Regions from separate parts of the Homo sapiens genome. Here region 2 is reported to be linked to region 1. The links are microRNA targets in miRTarBase. Many come from high-throughput screens and were not tested one by one. Region 1 holds a microRNA gene; the other region holds the end of a gene's coding sequence.

What was found. Region 1 holds the annotated microRNA hsa-miR-326 (CCUCUGGGCCCUUCCUCCAG, at 2,152-2,171, shown strand). A microRNA usually pairs through its seed, bases 2 to 8, with sites in the 3' UTR of a target mRNA and lowers its output. Matches are read on the target gene's strand: a 7mer-m8 pairs with bases 2 to 8, a 7mer-A1 pairs with bases 2 to 7 and ends in A, and an 8mer does both.
Region 2: miRTarBase lists ATXN2L as a target of hsa-miR-326. The part of its 3' UTR that is shown has no 7-base or 8-base seed match.

Annotation. Positions count from the first base shown.
Region 1 is chr11:75,332,894-75,337,278 of GRCh38, reverse strand. MIR326 (microRNA 326) reads left to right here and starts at 2,093; the gene lies at 2,093-2,187. The region is part of intron 1 of ARRB1 (arrestin beta 1); the gene reads left to right. RefSeq lists enhancers at 1,521-2,054, 2,055-2,589, 3,658-4,191.
Region 2 is chr16:28,835,826-28,840,210 of GRCh38, reverse strand. It overlaps ATXN2L (ataxin 2 like), which reads right to left. Exons shown (of 22, transcript NM_007245.4): 22 at 2,979-4,278. The coding sequence ends at 3,946. Among named protein-coding and RNA genes, the nearest start is that of MIR4721, 6.0 kb to the left of the region's middle.

The DNA.
Region 1 (4,385 bases):
GGGTCTCACTGTGTTGCTCAGGCTGGTCTCAAACTCCTGGGCTCAAGAGATCCTTCTGCCTCAGCCTCCCATAGTGTTGGGATTATAGGTGTGAGCCACTGTGCCTGGTCTGAAACTGACTTTGAAAAGGGAAATGTATGGCTTTTGAATTGAGGGATGGAATCTCCTAGCCTGGAGATAATTAAATAAGGCTTAGATCTCCCTCTCTCCCTTCACGCATTTCCTGAATACCTAGAACATGCCAGACACTGGAGCTACAAAATGAATTAAATAAAACATGTCTATCTTTTTCTATCTCCATAATGTTCATGCTGGAAACTGCCCTTTTTCTGTTTCATTGGATCAAGTTCAAATCTTAGCAGGTCACTTGTAACTCTGACTCTGGGCACATTGTGCCACCTTTCTGAGCCCTAGTTTTCTTATGCATACCACGGAGGTGATAATATTCCCCTCATAGGGTGGTGATGGATCATGTGTGTGAGGGGCTGAACAGGTGCCTTTGACAGTGGTTTCTCATTGAGTGGCAGCCACTCTCCGACTGGAAGTTTCTTGAGGGCAGTGACTATGTTTGGTAGATAAATGTGTCCTTGGCACCCAGCCCAGGGACCAGGCATGCAGTACATGAGGGTCGTCAGCCATCCCAATTTTCCTGGGACAGTCTCAGTCTCGCATCTCAGGAAACCCCTCAGCTCACTCCTGGGCAAATCAGGACTGTGGGTCACCCTACAGTATCTTCTCATAAAGATTCGTAGAGTAGGTATATCCACGAATTAAGCAAGCATTAGTGAAGGACAGGAGTAGGACTTGAACAGGCCAGGGCAAGCACTGGGTGGCTGCCTTGGGCGCTGAGAGGAGTCAGCAGAAGGGTCTGGAAGGCCTAGCATGTGGACAGTGGGAGGTAGGGGTGGGGCCATCTGCAGCTTGGCAGGGTGTGGGGAGGACATCAGGCCCTGAGTCTGTAAGGTGACTGCTTTCAAACAGGTTTCAGGCTCCCAAGGGCCATGTGCTCTTCCTCAGACACATCCAGAGAGGGCACGGTTGATTCTCACTTTTTTGATTTCTATTAAATATATTGAGCCCTCAGCTACTCTTCCGCCTTGGTAGCTGGAGGCCTCTTCTTCCTCAACCTACTGAGTCTCAGCGTGCCTGCCCACTGCCTTCTGAGCTGTCCATGCCAGACTGAGATGAGACAGGGCAGAGGCACGGGCTGCGAGATGGGAGAGCAGGGCTGCAGGCTCATTCTCAGGCCCAGCCCCAGACACTGAGTGAGCCTTGGTTTCTCACAGGGTATCTGTGAGTTGTCACGTGTGGAAAGCCCCTTGGCATCTTTAGTATGCAATAGGTGCACAGCAAGTCTCATGTTTTGTCCCCGTCTATAAAAGGGGGACAATAAAGCTTGCCCTGCTCACCTCCAGGACTGTCGTGTGGGCCAAACGGGATGTGGATGTGGGATGTGGGAACATTTGGTAAACTGTATCATACCCTACAAATGTTTGAGGATGGGGTTCTTAATAGGGCAGCCCTTGCCAGCCCAGGATTCCAGGCCCAGGATTCCAGCCCAGGCATGGAAGGCTCCTCTTGGGGTTGTGCCCCAGGATCACAAAGAAATCTGGCAGTGCTGCCCTTGTGAGCAGCAGACCTCCGCAGGCAGGTCCGAGACTCAGCTGAGCTCTGCTTCTTTTTTTTTTGAGACAGGGACAGGGCCTGGCTCTGTTGCCCAGCCTGGAGTGCAGTAGTGTGATCATAGCTCACTATAGCCTTGACTTCCTGGGCTCACACAATCTTTCCTCCTCAGCCTCCTGAGTAGCTGGGACCACAGGTGTTCGCCACCATCCCAGGCTAATTTTTAAATTTTTTGTACAGATGTGGTTTTGCTACATTGCCCAGGCTGGTCTTGAACTCCTGGGCTCGAGCAATCCTCCCGTCTCAGCCTCCCAAAGTGCTGGGATTACAGGTGTGAGCTACCACGTCCGGCCAAGATCTGCTTCTTCTGAAACCATGGCAAGAGAAAGACAGACAGACTTGGACCTACTGCAGGGAGGGTTAAGTAGCAGCGGGACTCCCATCAAGAAGAAGGAATGTCTTCCGGAGCCTCATCTGTCTGTTGGGCTGGAGGCAGGGCCTTTGTGAAGGCGGGTGGTGCTCAGATCGCCTCTGGGCCCTTCCTCCAGCCCCGAGGCGGATTCACCATGAGGCTGATGCAGCTTCAGCTTCCAGCCCTTCACGCTCCAGGGCCCTTTCCAAGGCCTAGCAATGTGTCCATGTGCTCAGGGGTTTTGTGAAATTTGCAAAAGGAAATTATTTTTGTACTCTTTTTTTTTTAAAACAAACAAACAAACAAAAAAAAAACCTTCCAAGCTCTGTAAGCTTTAGGCGCCCAAGCCCAGCTCTGCCCTGCTGTGGCAAGTTTTCGTTTGGGCTAGGATGTTGGTGCCACATCTGCTGCATGTCCTCAGGGGGCTCTCATCCCACAGCAGAGATCTGTCATAGGTTAGAGCCCTCCCTACAGAAGCAACACCTGAAAGGCATCCAGGGGAGCCAGTTCTGGGGCAGGCTGAACCTGCAGCTTCACTTGCCATGTAAATTAGAGACTGGAAAGGCTTCTCTGACTTCAATCTTCCTCTTCTGCAAAATGGAGATAAGACCTTCCTGGAAAGGTTAAAATAATGAACCATAGGTGAAACTGCCTGGTCTAGCCCCAGGCTTGTCCTGGGAGCTCAGGAAATGCTGATGAAAGCTGGATGGAGATGGCTCAGGGGAGCCCATGCCTTTCATTGGGATAGTCTGTCCTGCTGTCTGTCAAATTAACCTGCTGTGTGCCAGGCCTGGTATTAGGCTCTGGGATACAAGCTGCTGGGGTGAGGTGGTCAGACGAATCAAGAGGGTGAAAGTGGTTATAAACTGTGGAGCACGGCTTGCCTGGGAAGGGGCTGTTGTAACCGGGATGGGGCCTTTTTTTTTTTTTTTTTTTTGTTTGAGACGGAGTCTTGCCCTGTCACCCAGGCTGGAGTGCAGTGGTGCTATCTCAGCCCGGGTTCAAGCAACTCTCCTGCCTTGAGTAGCTGGGATAATAGGCACATGCCACCACGCCCAGCTAATTTTTGTATTTTTAGTATAGATGAGGTTTCACCATGTTGGTCAGGCTGGTCTTGAACTTCTGACCTTGTGGTCTGCCCACCTGGGCCTCCCAAAGTGCTGGGATTACAAGCGTGAGCCACCGCGCCCGGCCTGGGATGGGACCTTCTGTGGGAGTGGGGCAGAGTAGAAGTCTGGACAGGCCTTTCCTGCTCCTGGGACTGGGTCAGGAGTCTGGCTGGTCTGGTGCCTGAGGGGAGCTGCCAGGGCAGGCCGAGCTGACCTTTCCTGCTCAGAAAGGAAGCCAGGCTGGCAGGGTGCGGTGCATCCCTCTGCAGAGTCAGGGAAGCGGAGTTTGTTGGCAGCAATGTCTTGCCTTCTGTGCTTCCCTAAGACAGGTGGCTGTGGGGAGGGCTTCGAAGAACAAACATGATGTCCGGCTAGGTTTCAGATCCCACCCCTACTGCTTGTTATGCCTGTGACCTAGAGACGGTTACATAATCTTTCTGAACCTTGGTTTTGTCATCTTTAAAATGGGGGTAATAAAATCCTCTCCTCACCCCCATAGGGTTGTGGTAAGGCTTAAATGAGATAATGCATGGCTTAACACAGTGCCTGGTACACAGTAGGTGCTCAATACATGCTGATTGTCCCTCTCCTGCCCCATGACCCTCATCAACTTCTCTTTTACACTTCCCCGTTTGTCTGTGCCCCCAGTTGGGTGTGGGCTCCGTGGTGGCAAGGACTGATTTTTGTTCACCAATCATTCTATTCCCCAGCCCTGGCACAATGCCTTCAATACACCCTGAACTGGTTGGCAAGAAGCTGCACTGGGCCCAAAGAAAACAGTGTTAAGTTTTAGCTGGAAACCTGCTTACAACACACCTACTGTGTGCTCCTGCCAGAGCACTTACTGTATGGTTTCTGCCCTGCAGAGCTTGAATGGCCACCCACAACTGTGGCTCTGCCCTTCTTGACAAGTGGCTTTGTTTTTTTCTTCAGAGCACTTAGCACCTGCTGTAATCAATTTGGTGAGCGTTGTTGAGTCAAACTCTGTAAAATATTTGAAGATATTTATTCTGAGCCAAATATGAGTGACCGTGGCCTGTGACACAGCCCTCAGGAGGTCTTGAGAACATGTGCCCAAGGTGGTCGGGGTACAACTTGGTTTTATATATTTTAGGAGGCATGAGACATCAATCAAATACATTTAAGGAATACATTGGTTTGGTTCAGAAAGGTGGGACAACTCAAAGCGGTGGGCAGGGGTTGGGGGGAGCTTCCAGGCTATAGGTACATTTTTTTTTTTG
Region 2 (4,385 bases), not on the chromosome of region 1:
GTTTTGAGAAAATGCAAAACCTGATTTTTGACTCCAGAACAGAGGCAAACTAAGGGAAGTGGGTGAGAGAAGAGGAAGAGGGAAGAACTTTGCAAAAAGAAGTCCAATGACAGGGCAGATTTGTCTTCTCCTCAGTGCTCAAGGCAAGGCTGACGGGCTGCCAAGAGGAATTTCTGGCTGGCTGAAGGCTAAGTTCCCTTCCAACTTTGAGATTTCTGCTCAAAGATGGTAAACATACAGTAGTCTCTGCCCTTATCCCTGGTTTCAGTTATCCACTGTCAACACTGGTCTGATTATTTCTGGAATTTTTTTTTTTTTTTTTTTGAGACAGTGTCTGTCACCCAGGCTGGAGTACCGTGGCACGATCTCGGCCCACTGCAACCTCTGCATCCCGGGTTCAAGTGATTCTCCTGCCTCAGCCTTCAAGTAGCTGGGATTACAGGCACCCACCACCACACCTGGCTAACTTGTATTTTTAGTAGAGATGGCATCTCACCATGTTGGCCAACCTGATCTCGAACTCCCGACCTCAAATAATCCACCTTCCTCGGCCTCCCAAAGTATGGGATTACAGGCGTGAACCACCGCACCCAGCTGGAATTTTCTTTTTTTTTTTTTTTTTTTCCTGAGACAGAGTCTCGCTCTGTCGCCAGGCCAGAGTGCAGTGGCACGATCTCTGCTCACTGCAACCTCCACCTCCCGGGCTCAAGCCATTCTCCTGTCTCAGCCTCCCAAGTAGCTGGGCCGACAGGGATGCGCCACTATGCCCAGCTAATTTTTGTATTTTTAGTAGGCAGGGTTTCACCATGTTGGCCAGGATGGTGTCGATCTCTTGACCTCATGATCCACCCACCTCAGCCTCCCAAAGTGCTAGGATTACAGGTGTGAGCCACCGCACCTGGCCTAGAATTTTCTATTTAACAGTTCAGATTTTAAGTTGAGCACCATTCTGAGTAGTATGATGAAATCTTTTGCCATCCTGCTCCATCCATCCTGTCAGGACGTGAACCATCCCTTTGCCTGTTAGTCACTTTAGTAGCCGTGCTGGTTATCAGATTGACCGTTACAGCACTCCAATGATTGTGTTCAAGTAGCCCTGATTTACTCAGTGATGGCCCCGAAGCACAAGAGTATTGTGCCTAATTTAGAAACTAAACCTCATCATAGCTATAGGAAAAAACATAGTATACATAAGGTTTGGTACTATGGGCATCCACTGGGGATCTCAGATCACATCCCCCCCAGATGCGGGCGGACTGCTGTACAATCTGCAGTCCTTCCAGAAAGCATCAAAATGACTACTCAGCTGGGTGTGGTGGCTCACACCTGTAATCCCCAGCACTTTGGGAGGCCAAGGCAGAACTGCTTGAGCCCAGGAGTTCAAGACCAGCCTGGCCAACATAATGGGACTCTGTCTCTTAAAAAAAAAAAAAAAATTGAAAGATTACCCAGTAATACTTGCCATATTTCATAGTAGATACCTGTCTCTCCATCTACACTTCAAATATCCTGAGCCCAGCTGAAGCCTTGCAGCTCCTGCACCACCCCACATCTACCTGCTGAGTGCTCTTGGGACTCCAACCCCGCCCATTTTTAGCATCCAAGTGGCTACCACATAAAGTCCTTTTTTTTTTTTTTTTTTTTAACCTCTTTAATAACCCCTTCTCTCCACCCCACCATGTACACCTATTACCAAGTTCCAAATCTGCATATGCTGGGATTCTTCCCCAATACTGTAGCCTTCACTCTTCCTGTCCTGGTCTCAGCCAGCTTTCTCTGGCTTTGGTGAGAGCTGAAACACCCGTCTACCACTGAGCACCAGCCACTTCCTTAAAATCCTGGAAAGGTGAAATCACCTCCATTTTAGGCAAGGAAACCAAGGTCAAGTCTCCGAGAGAATTCTCAACCTCCTTGAAAAACTACCTCCTCTGGAGCCTGCTGTCATTTCCACATCCCATGCTTCAATCTTCTTGTCCCACCCATAATGCCTAATTTTGCTCTTGCTCCCCAGTAAGCCCAGTTCCCAACCAATCCTCTCCCCTCTTCTCCCACTAACAGCTTCACCTTTACAGCTCTCATCCACAGTCAGCTGCACATCCATCAGGATTTTAATTCCAATGACCATAAACATTCACCCTTCAACATAAAGAGGTGTATGTAATTCATGAGATACTCATATTAGAAATGAAACTTTGAATCACACCTTGAGATGAAGCCAAGTTCAAGATGAGAAAATAGTCACTAGACAGCTGGGTGAGCTATCTATGTAGCAGTTCCAGAGCCAGTCAGGGACAGCATCCTTGGGAACTGTGCCACTGCTGTCCCATCCTGGGAAGCGGACTCCCATCTCACGTGCTTTTAGCCATCCGGTCATCCAGAACCTCAGTCATCAACTACACAACTTCACATGAAGTCTGGAACCCACCTTCAAATGCATGGCACAGGATCCCGATCTGGCTCCCCATCATCCTAGATTTCAAAAACTGGCCACCATTGGTGTGCAATGGAGTGATCTCAGCTCACTGCAACCTCCGCTTCCTGGGTTTAAGTGATTCTCCTGCCTCAGCCTCCCAGGTAGCTGGGATTACAGGCATGTCCCACCACGCCAGGCTAATTTTTGTATTTTTAGTAGAGACAGGGTTTCACCCGAGTTCAAGTGATTCTCCTGCCTCAGCCTCCCAAGTAGCTGGAATTACAGGCATGTCCCACCACATCTGGCTAATTTTTGTATTTTTAGTACAGATGGGGTTTCACCAAGTTGGCCAGGATGGTCTCCATCTCTTGACCTGGTGATCTGCCCACCTCAGCCTCCCAAAGTGCTGGGATTACAGGCGTGAGCCACCATGGCTGGCCACTGGACACGATTTTTACATGGAGGTGAAGGAACAGGTCACAATGCAGCACCTATCAATGCCACAAAAGACTGACAGCTGTCACCCCACTCTAGTCTCCAAGGAGGAAACTCCAGGCAGGTTAAGTTAGTTTAAAATTTTATTTTTTTTATTTATTTTTTAATATTTTTATGTAATAAAAAGTAAAAGTCCTTGTCCAGCCATCCTCGTGGGGCATCTGTCTGTCTCTCACACAGGTCACTCAAGTTAATGGGAAAGAAAGAACAGGGGGCCCAAGTCTGAAGTTATAAATAATAGAAAATAAAAGATCTTCCGTCTCCAGCGGGGGAATAGATGAGAGGATGGGAGGGCAAGACTGGGTGGGGACGGGCAGGGGCAGAGCAGGAACCCCCCACCCCTGCTGGACCCTGGCCCTGCCCTCTGTGAGGCCCCTCCCATTCAAGGTGCTTGGCAGGAATTCCCCAGCTCCCCTGGGGAACGGGGGGATGGGGGGCTGGGAGTGGTCCGAGCTGCTGGGGGAAGAGACATAGATCACTCTTCCCTCCACTCATGGAGGTCTCAGGTCGCGGCCAGGACAATCTTCAGTTCCCCGGGGGGTGGAAGGGGAGCTGCTGGGAGGGATGAGATTGAACTGGTTGGAGGGGAAAGAGAAGAGAGCAGGAGCATTAGAACCCAAGCAGCTGTCCCTTCCTCCAATGCCGTCCAGTGGGGGCGTGGGGGTGTGTCTGGGAAGGAGCGGCCTCCTCAAGGTGTCTCGGGGGCTGTCAGAAGCACAGGTCAATCGCTGTTTCCCAGTAAGCCAGAGCCCTCACTCATGTGCCCAGCTCAGCCCCCCACACCCCAGTCTGGCCCTGTCTGCTGCACTGACCTTACCTCGGCTAAGTCAGGAGACAGTCGGGGTCACTGAGAGCTGGGGAGGCAGTGGGGAGGGGGGCTGCTGGATCACAACTGAGCGAGGACGGAGGGAAGCAAAGGACAGAGCCAGGAGCAAGCCCCTGGCGGCGGCGACTGTGGCTTCTGCCCACCCTACATACTTCACAGACAGGTGCAGGTCGGCGGGCGCCCTGTGGGACAGCCCTGCCTCCAAGACCCCTCACTCCCCACCCAGAACCCGTGCATCCTGCCCCACCTGCAGCCCCTCAGCTCTTCCATGCCAAATTCCCCCAGCTAATGAGAACTCACGAATCCTGTCATCGGCTCCTCCTGGAAATCCAGGCGCCTGGCCAGGCTGCTCACCTTGGGGGTGTCCGATGTAGGGGTAGGGTGAGGGTGTGGAAGCTGAGAGTGCAGGCACCCCACTCTGGGGCACCGCGCCTTGGGGGGGCCCCCCATGACTCTGGGGTGGGTGCAGCAGCATCACCTGGGGCGGGTGGGGAGCCCCAGGGTGAGGGGGCGGGGCTGCTGTGATTCCAGTTTGGACATGGGCCTGTGGAAAACAAAAAAGTAGCCGGGAAGACCACAGAATCCTGAAACAGACTCTGAGAGCCAGAGTTAGGGAGCACTATGGCAAGGGTGGCACCAGGGACTTGGCAA